Linked DNA regions of Homo sapiens: region 2 is linked to region 1. The links come from fine-mapping of genetic effects on gene expression. A gene starts in region 1. The other region holds a variant in brackets. All regions are shown on one strand. Distances are from middle to middle.

What was found. PIP is the estimated chance that this variant, and not a neighbour inherited with it, causes the effect.
Region 2: its variant is the best candidate, but not a certain one, in a credible set for the expression of SEMG1 in whole blood (TOPMed, PIP 0.86).

The regions. Positions count from the first base shown.
Region 1 is chr20:45,204,890-45,210,276 of GRCh38, reverse strand. SEMG1 (semenogelin 1) reads right to left here and starts at 3,244. Exons shown (of 3, transcript NM_003007.5): 1 at 3,148-3,244; 2 at 1,547-2,903; 3 at 509-676. The coding sequence starts at 3,223. The coding sequence ends at 1,591.
Region 2 is chr20:45,270,446-45,275,832 of GRCh38, reverse strand. All of the region lies in intron 2 of LOC105372630 (a long non-coding RNA gene), which reads right to left. Among named protein-coding and RNA genes, the nearest start is that of SLPI, 19 kb to the right of the region's middle. The variant A/G (reference allele first, on the strand shown) is at 2,505.

The sequences.
Region 1 (5,387 bases):
GATTCCTTTGACTGGTCATCTGGTCTTTCCATCCACAGGTGACATTTTAACCCACTTGCTGTTACTGAAGTTGTGCAGATTTAACATATCACCTTTGGTGTAATTGCATCTCAATGGATACTGTAGGCGTAAGACATTCTTAAGCTAATTGAAGGGATGTGCTACTGTGGAATTGATCACCAGCAGATCAGGGACTTTCCCAGGGCCTGTTGCAATACATTTTCTCTTGTCTTTCTGGGATATTTTTAGTTCCTGGGGTCTTATTAGTACCAGGGTCATGAAAGCCTTTAGTGTTGGCCTCAGGTGGTAGACATGTGACTGGTAGACTAACAGCACCCTATTTTTAGTGTTGGTTTCTATCAATATATCTTGAAATGTGGCTTTGATTACTATTCTCCCTAGTGCTTCAAAAATATCCCTTTATTTTCTTTCAAAACCACTTACATTAGAAATGCCCTCAACCCCTTGAGCCACTAGGAATCCAGAGAAAACAGGAGTCAAAAGCAGATGAAGCAGAAAATGATCTCTTTATTGGAAGTTTGAAGGCGCTTCAGGTTAGGAAAGCCTAATTCAAGGAAGCATGGGCAGGTGGTGTCATCCATGGACCAAGAATCTGAAACTACACGGGAGTCTGCATCTCAGAAACATCACAGAATTCACTGAGGTCAACTGACACCTAGAGAGAAAGAAGAGAATCAGTGATGTGAGTATAGTAAAAAGTGAAGGGTGGGGATGGTAGCTGGGCCCCCTGTCCCCTTCAGCTCCAACTGTACCAGCCCTCTACTACTAGGATACCAGGCCACTAGTTGCCAGCTGGGGCCACTGTTTCTACTGCTTGCCCTCTCTTCAAGTGCAGTGTTACTTACTGCAAAGAGGCAGGGAAGCACCATTACCCCTCTCAGGGCTTCAGTTTTCTTCTCCTGATGTTGTAAACACCCAATTGGCCCATGAGATCCCTCACCATCTCTTGTGTCTCCCTTTCCATCTTCTCTTTCACAACATGAACAAGGATCTTTCTACATATCTCTTTCCTGTATTCTGAGAGGGAGGACTGATAGTCTTTGGGCTTGTGGTCTCTGAAGGAGCATAGATGAACCCTAACAGGGATGCAAGAACATTCACTGGTGTGCAGAAAGAAAACATTAATGGCTGTAATCCTTTATACTATATAGGAAAGAAACTGAGGTTTACTAATCTAAAGTATAAGAACTGACAAGAGTATACCATAAACTTATAAATATGCATATGTAGTCAGTACCTGTTCAAAAAAACCTTTAGCAGGTAGGCATATACAAAAAAATATTATTGAAGAATATTCAATTAAGGATAGGAATTCTAGGACCTCATGATAGGCCAAACATCCTTCTGTGCCACTACCAGACCCTCTCCTCACCAGGGAATGGGGAGGCTCATCTTCCTACCACTTGTTATACAGCACTTCTATTGGTGCGAACAATGGTTATCAATCCCACAAAAGTCCTGGAGAGTCCCCAACAATTCTAAACAATGAGAGAGATATCTCCCCTATTTGCTAAAAAAAAATTACCTTGATATTGGTCCATCCTTTCACATGGTTACCGAATGGTAGGTTTATGTAAATAATGGGTTTCGGTCGTTGTTAAGATGTTGTGCCAAATGACGATCACTGTCATCTTCCTGCTCTATAATTACAATATCCAATCCCCCATGAGATCCATGTTGGTGTCTGCCTTTTTGTTCATGACTGAGTAGGTCTTGTTCTCTATTTGTAGATTGGCCAGACTCTCCTTTTGCATTTTCACCATGCCATGGCTCTTGCTTAGGATTTGGTGCCTGGATTTGAGACTTGCCTGCTACTAGCTTTTCAGTTTGGCTATAAATACTGCGTTGGGATACATCTTTCTGCACACCATTTTCTCCATAGTGGAGTCGTCTTTCTTCCGTACTTGAAGATTGGTATGATATTTTATTTGCCTTTTGGCTATGCTCTTGCTCTTGACTGGGAATTGTTATCTGTTTTTGAGACTTGCCCTGTGCTTTCTCTTCAGTTTGGCTATAAATACTGCTTTGGGATACATCTTTCTGCACACCATTTTCTCCATAGTGGAGTCGTCTTTCTTCTGTACTTGAAGATTGGTATGATATTTTATTTGCCTTTCGGCCATGCTGTTGATCTTGATTGAGATTTTTTGTCTGGTGTTGATTCTTGTTATATACTAGGAGCTCATCTTGGGTAGAAAAAATGTCTTTGGATCCATGTTGGAGTTTGTCTTGGTGCGCAGGACAGAGTGAGGTTTGTACTTTACTTGAATGTTCCTCTCTCACTTCAACCACATTTTGGTAATGCCCTTTATTTTGATGAGAATTTTTAGTCTCACGTTGTTGTTTGTTAGCTACTAGCTCTTCAGTTTGGAGAACATAACTGCTTTGGGATCCGCCTTGTTTTCTACCTTTTTGTGCACCAGAGACGGAAGTTTGTTCTTTACTTAGTCCATGAACCCACAGCCTTTCTTCTGTGTTTGAATATTGACTGGATATTCCCTTTCCAGATGGGCTATTCCCCTGATCTTGAGAAGGATTTTGTGTCCCACGATGAGCTTTGCCTCCTTTATGGTGTATAACTACCCTGTGAAAATGACCTTTTGATTTATCATGGTCTCTGCCTTCTTGTTTATTATGGAGCAGTTGTTGACTTCCACCTAGATGTCGTTGTGATTTTGTCGTCTTATGTAGGGCATTCAAATCATATTGCTGACTTTTTCGGGACTGGTCATGATCATTGGCATCTACATGATATGTGTATTGAATAGAAAAACTGCCTTTGGATTCAGTTTGTTGCTTGCCTTTTTGTCCAGAATAGTGCTGGCCCTTTTGTCCGTGTGGAAATTGGGAAAATTCACTTGGTAATCGGCCTTTTGATCCACCTGGTAATTGATAATAAGAAGGTATGCATTCATTATCTCCAAAGCTCCCTTACAACTCTTACCCCCCACTTTTCCCCCAACAAATTATTGATATTTCTAGAAAAGCTGAAGCTTTGGGTGGAGAAAATCAATTCTCTTCAAAGAGAAGAATCTGTGCCTAAACAGGTTACTGTTTGCACCCCAAATAATCTTAGATTATTAGCTGTCTGAGCAGCTTTCCCCAAGGCTTACCCTCTCCACTCACCTTTTTGTCCCATCACAGCTGCTTGCTTCTCCAAGATGAGGAGCAGGGAAAGTACAAAGATGATGTTGGGCTTCATCTTGCTTGGAAAACCTTGTCTGAGAGCTGAGCCGACCTTGTCATTTATATCTTCCTTGAGTGAGTGTGCCATGGGTGGAGCTTAAATTACAAAAGGCACTGACTTTTCTTAGCTTATCAGTAAATGCCAACTTCCTCACCCCTGCTGAGTGTGGGACAAAGTCAATGTCCCCAGCAACATAATGTCAAAGGCATTTTCTTTCTTCTGGCAGCCCCAGCAAATTTTTATCAGTCCTTTTAGATCATCATGCCAGATCACTTTAATTTTACAGAATTATAGACAAAAGTAGGAAAGAGACTGGCTTCAGGCTACAAAAGCAATTGGTTTCTGAGAATGCCTTTATATTCTAAATGTGAGTTTCCCTTCATGATGCAATAATTTAAATACTCTATTTTAGATAGAACTCCATACTTCCTTTTGTTTTAAAAATGATCTTGAGACACGTTCTATTTTACCTAAGAATGAGCAATCATAGAAGTCCAATGATATAGAAGATAATGAAACGTTATGGAATCCAAAGAAAGAAATTTTAAACAAGTAAATGGGGCACTCCAATGTCAAATATGTCTGTCAAGTTCAACACAATAAAGACTGACATGTATCCAAAGTTTTTCTTAGTTGTTGCTAGTAACTTTAATGAGAGATGAATACAATTGCATTGGGTTGTCAGTTGAAGGATGGAGACCAGCTGCAACCTTCTCAGGAAGTCTGAATTCATGGTGGAGTGAGAGCTGAGGCTGTATCTGGAGGGTGAGGTAAGTTCCAGATGTGTTTTCAAAGGATGAAAGAATTTTAATATGCTTTCATGGTGATAGGAACAACTGTTGGAAAAAAAGTAAAAATGCTGGTTTCTAGATTGGGTTCTTTTCATGAAATCTACCTAAACAGCAGAATTTTCTTTTTAATTAAGAGAAGTTTCTACTTCAGTAGTAAACAGCTGAATCCCCAAACAGGCTGTGAGAAATATTTGCCACCATCAATGAATTGAATAATGTATTGTGAGTGGACATGAAGCTAAAATTCCCACCTTTGGTAGAAGCATAGATTTTTCCAATTGTGATGACATCCTGAAAAGTCTGAAGAAACTTTCTTTACTTTGAGTCATAAAGACTTCGTTATGAGCAGACCACAGGAGAAGAAGAAAGCATCCCAACAGTGTCCCTGTGTACATTCAGAACACCTTGGAGGGTAGTGCTGGGGAAAGGATAGCTTGAAAACTTATTTTCAATTATTCTGTCTTAGAATCTTAACCTTCCTGTAGGCAATGCTCTATGGAAGGGGAAAAGAGAAAGGCCAACCACAGAAAAAAAGTGCTATGCTATCAAACATAAATCATGTGAGCTGCATGGTTTCTCTATGAGCCACTCTGAGATCTTACCAAATTTATCTGTTTGCCTCAAAGGCAGTAAGTAGTTCCTTATTGCAGAAACCCCAACAGAGTAAGGTGATATTGTTCTGAACTAAAATTGATTACTGTGTCTGCTAACCACTGTAATCTTCCTCACACTTCCCTTAAGAAAATACCAGAAACTGTTCTGTTCCAAACTTACTGATACAAAATAGAGTCTGAAATATTAATCTTACTTATGGATCAAGAACAAAACTTTCATCTCATCTAGTGTCCAAAAGATGCAGATAAAACAAAAGGGCACAATATTTGCAAAAACAAACCAGGAAAATGCAATCCAAGCAAAACATGTGATTACTATATTCATATTAGAATTGAATTCAATGAAATGTGGAAAAAAACATTTCCAAATGATAAAGGAATGTATTGATAAAGTTGAAATCAGAAATCAGTGATTTGGAAAGCATAAAAATGGTATGGTGATGCATACATCTTAGATATGGAATTATGATGGGGGAAAAGATTAAGTGATCAAATGATTTGTCCTGTTGGACAAATAAAAAATGCAAAAATATTAAAGTGCACTAAATTGGCACAAAAATCTGAAAGTTTTATACTCATAGGAAAAGAAGAAAACAGGAGGACTTAAATGTATTTTGCTCAATTCTATGGGAAATCACTTTACAACTTAGAAAAGATTCAAATATAGTTATTTTTGGGGAATGGGCAGAAAAACCTGGTAGAGTAGGACTCCCCAGAGATTATACCCTCCAAAACGTCGAATTTAATAATTATCCACATATGATAATAGTTTCT
Region 2 (5,387 bases), 66 kb before region 1:
GCCACTGTCGAGTGTGGCTCTCCATGATTTGCTTCAGGAAGGCTACAGGCAGCGCCTCTTCCAGCAGTCCTCTCCTTTGACCATGGAAGTGGCCACAGAAACTCTTACTTTTTCCTCAAGTCTGAAATATCTCTTAGACTGTGACATAGGAACACATCCCTACACCTCAGTTTTCTTATTTGTATAACGAGACCATAAAACTAACTAATTCATAAAATTTACTGTGAGAGTTAAATGAGAGATAGCATGTGGAATTGGACCTCAGCTCACTCTGACGACAGAGTCTTATCTTCTTTTTGTACCTGGGGCAGACAGCCAGTTGGATGGCCTCAGGAGCTGTTATTTTTTCAGGCTGCCATTGATTTTTAGATTTAAAACTTCTGCACTTCAAAAAAAAAACTATTAAGCAAATGAAAGTCAGTCACTAGGACTTGGAGAAAATATTCACAATACATGTACCTGACAACGGATGATTACATTGTGCAAAGGATATGTGTATATTAACAGAATATAGATATATAAAGAGCACCTATGACTCAGTCACACGAAGACAAAAAACAAAAAAGGGCCAAAGACTTAAATAGCTATTTCACAAAAGAAGATACATGAATGGTCATTATCGGCACATGAAAAGATGCTTAACATTGTTAATTACCAGAAAATGCAAATGTAATCCACAATGAGATATTACTTTGTATCCACTAAAGTGGCTAAGACAAAATGGACTGACAATATTAAGTGATGGTGAGGATGTGAAGCAACTAGAATTCATATGCATTGCTGCTGGAAATTCAAAATGGTACAACCACTTTGGAAAATTTTGGTAGTTTATGATGAAGTTAAATATACATCTACCCTATGACTTGCAATTTTACTCCTAGGCATTTACTCAAGAAAAATGAAAGCATATGTCCATATAAAGATTTGAAAAGAATATTTAAAAATGCTCTATTCATAATAGCCCCAAACTAGAAAAAATCCAAATGCCTGTCAATAGAAGAATGGATAAAAAGATTGTGGATATTCATATAATGGAATATTACTTAGCAATAAAAAGGAACAGGTTGTCAACACAGGCAACAACGTGGATGAATCTCAAAAACATTATGTTTAACCAAAAAAACTAGACAAAAGATTACATACAATATAATTCCATATATCTGACATTCTAGAACACGCAAAACTAATCAATAGTGAAAGAAAGCAGATCAGTGGCTGCCTAGGGCAGGGATTTATTCCCTAGCGGGTAGCAAAGTTGATTATAAAGGAACACAAAGAAAATATTCCGGAGTGATGGAAATATTCTGTATCTTGCTGGGGCAGTGGTTACATGTGTGTATACATTTATTAAAACACATCAACTAGTACATTTGAAACCTGTGCATTTTATTAAATGTAAATTATATGTATGATAGAACTAAAAATGATTCATGCTTTAAGGTTTAATAGTTTAGAGAATCCCCCTCTGGTCCCAGGCCTCTCTTGTGGATAGTGTTCAGCTCTGGTTGACAGACACTTAATCTCCAATGTTCTTTTTTTCAAGGTCTTGTCAGAGCTCCAAACTTCAATTCCTCATGACAGATTGCAGCTTCCTTCATTAGCAATTTGATAAATGGGATGCCTTCCTCTAAGCCCTTGAGAGATTGCCAGAAATGCCCCGGTATGTCTCTGATAAAAATCATTTCTGGGGTGACTGTTGGTGGAAGTCATTCAAGCTCTCCCATTATCAGTCTATTTCCCTATCTTTTAACACAAACCTTTTCTGCCTTTGCCTCAGATTCCAGGTCTCATCTTCCCTGAGACCTCAAGCTCCCCTCTGTAGGGATTTCATCACTGAGGAGAAGCACCCTCTTACCAGCCTACATAGAATTTTATTCTGGGAAATCATTGGGGGCGGGGGGACATTTAACAAGTACAAGTCAGGAATGGTTTAGGTGGGAAAACCCCAGCTGGGGAATGGTTGGACCACACAGTTGTCATCTGTGTAGGAGATGTTGCAGTCCCATCTGTCATCTGTCACCCATTGATTATCAGGGAGGATTTGAATGATCTGATCTTTCCTTATTTTTCCTAATTTCCCAATCTTTTTCTTTGTCATCCAGCTTAGCAGAGTTTTTTTTTCACTGTGGCCAACACTACCATGAGGGCATCTGGCCACCAACCCAGTTGCCTGACCCCAGACTGGGGGTGATATGCCAGTGCCTTTATCCCAGCTTGGTATAAGTTCGCATTTTTAAAGGACCTTTTCTAATTAAGAACAAAGAAAACCATAAATGTCCAGACACGGTTTAGGGGCCCCAGGGATGGGCAAAGTTGGAGAGTGAAGTGGCTTCTTTCTGAATGCATTCACTTGTTCATTCCACAAGTTATTTTCTGCATCTGATGTTTATTGAGCACTGACTATGTGTCAGGTCCTATGCCTTGCATCTAAGACAAAGATATGAACCAAACACAAAGGTTCCTACATTCATAGAGCTAGCATCCCTAGTTATTGAGTACTGGGT[A/G]TGTGTTATTTTGCTATGAATACAGAGGTGAAAAAGATTGATACAGTCCCTACTCTCAAAGGGCTCTCAGTCCAGTGCAGGAAGATACAGATTAACAGGTAGATGTAATGTAGAAAAAAGGAGAAGGTTGGGGAACATCAGAGGAGCATCCAACAGACAAGGAAATCAGAATTTAAGTGATAGAGGCATGAACTAGACTTCCAGCAATGGGTCTTAATCTTTTTGGGATCTAAGCCATTTTGAGAAGCTGATGAACTCACACCTCTGAAAAATGCACATGACAGTGGCATATCATTTCCTGGGATTTATGGATCCCAGAAGGGATCTAAGGACCTCAGATAAAGAAGCCCTGACAGAGAAATAAGGCCTCAGAGTGGAATCGGGACAGCCAGAATGGCCCCATCTAAGAAAGAAACCCCTGCCCTTCCCAAAGAAACCTGCTTGGAGGTGGGAGCTGGCTAAGGGTTCACCTCTACTGGGGCTGGGGGGATGGAGAAAGCATGGCATTTCCTGGAGGCCCAGGAGTGTCAGTGCTAGGAGGGGTCTTCACCTTGACTTAACACAACCCAGCACACTCTTTATACAGATGGGAAAATTAAGGCTTGGGAAGGGCAATACCTTACCCCTCCCAAGCCATTCAAGATTATGCATTGAATCAGAAACAAGTTCCCAAGAATTCTTGTCTCTGAGCTTCCATTCAGAGAGAATGGTGCACAGAGTAGAGGGACTCCAGCCAAAGCTAAAGATAGCAAAGCTAAGGCAGTGGAGAGGGAACTGCAGTCTTAGACAGAGGAGACAGAACCAGGTTGGGCTAGTGGTCAACTAGTCTGAACTAGATCTCCCCAGAGATGAGTGTCTGAAGTGACAGAAGAGACTGACATCCCCTCTGAGATCCAACCTGGCAGGAAGGACATTGTAATGATAATAATAATAACCACTCTTTTAGACTTACTGCAAGCCAGACACTGAGCTGGGTGCTTGATGATTGTTCTGCCATTTACTTGTCCCAGTAACCCTAGGAATGCATGAATAAGTCTGCTTCACATAGGTTAATGAAAACAGCAGAAGTCTCTTCACTTGCCCAAGATCACACAGGAAACAAATTGTCGAGCTAGTCTTTGAACTCAGGTCATGCTAATCCCACAGTTTACCTCTTAGTCGTAATTGTGTCTATGTGTTTCTTATTCACATTTGTATTCCCAGTAGGCATTTGTGAGGGATTGAATGAGTAAACAAGAGTTAGGAAGAAGTATTGGATGCTGGCTGGAGAAGGCTCAGTTGGATTCGAGAAGCCAGATTGAGTCAAGAGGCATGTGGCAGCAGGGAACAGGCCCCAGGGAGTGCCCATGGGGGTAACTCTACCTGGCAGGTGACTTGAGCAGGGCTCCTCCTCTCAAGTCTCAGTTTTCTTCTGCTGAGAAATGGTTGATTTGGCCTAGATGATCTTCGAGACGCCTTCCAGTGCTAACACACTATGGTTTTGGGATTTAGAACCAAGAACCAGGTCAGGATGGCTCTGAGCTACTAATATAAAACCTGATTCTGACCCAGAGGGTACTTGGGGACTAGACGGAGGTGACCACAAAATTGTAGGTGGACCAGGAAGACTGGGCACAGAGAAGGGAAACAAAAACCTTCCATTAGGTAAGTCTGCCAACAAAAATAGGAAAGTATATGCATAAAAATAATGCTGGGAAAGCAAGCTATTTCAGACAGTTGACAAAACCAAGGGATAACCTTTTCCTGAGTTAGAGCTAATTTTGGTTAATTTAATACAAGCCACAAGGCTGAAGTTTTAGAAAACCAAGATACCTAGAAACCAATCAAATGGTTTTTCTGTTGCCCTAAAGTCTGTTTCCAAAACACTATTCAGCCATCACCACATTGATTCCAGTCCTAGTAATAGTAGGATAGTAATGGTGGGAAGGAGCATAGAAGGTTTTTATCATAACTTTATTTATTTATTTTGAGACAGAGTCTTGCTCTGTTGCCCAAAGTGCAGTGGTTTTGCCAGGATGATCTTGAACTCCTGGACTCAAGCAATCTGCCTGCCTTAGCCTCCCAAAGTGCTGGGATTACAGGCATGAGCCACCCCACCCAGCTATAATTTTATTTTTAAGAAAGGAAGTGTTCTTTTGTCTTTCCCGATCTCTCTTGATGCACAAATGATTGGCTGTAGTAAAACCTATGTTAATTCCACTGCTTCCCTTGAGGCAGGTTCCATAGGCACGTCCTACCGTGCTTTGAAACTAAACAAAACAGCCAGCTGGCACAATGTTTCCATAGAGAGAAACTTCTCACAGGTACTTTGTAATCACTTCATGTCCTGTTTGTTGCAACACATAAATTTTGTTTCTGAGAAATGTACACCAATCTTGGTATAACTTGCTTAATTGTGATACTCAATTTAATTTCACTTTTAAACCAATACTGAGAAAAATAGTTGTTAGTGTTGGGAGGTTCCAGGATTATAAAAGGCATTTTGATTAGGGACCTCTTGAAACAGCAACAAACTTAACAATTGTCACTCGAGACAAAATGTAAGTAACAGCCTAATCCCCAAAATCACCTTGAAATAAGAATTTTAAGACTTTTAGGGGGATAAAAGGAATAAGATCCATAAAAAGAGAAGAGGTTCCATAAACATCCATCCACCCATGTTTTCTTAACATCCATAAAAGACATTAGGAAATAAAACCAGGTAGATATGAATCAAGAACAGATGGATATGGAAAAAATAAGAGTGTGTAAACGCACCCAATTCAAGTTTTAGAATGAGGGAAAAGAGAGAGGAGGATATTTAGAGAAGTAATAGGAGATAAAAATTTTTATTTGTATTTGTATTTTTGAGGTGGGGTCTCACTCTGTCACCCAGGCTGGAGT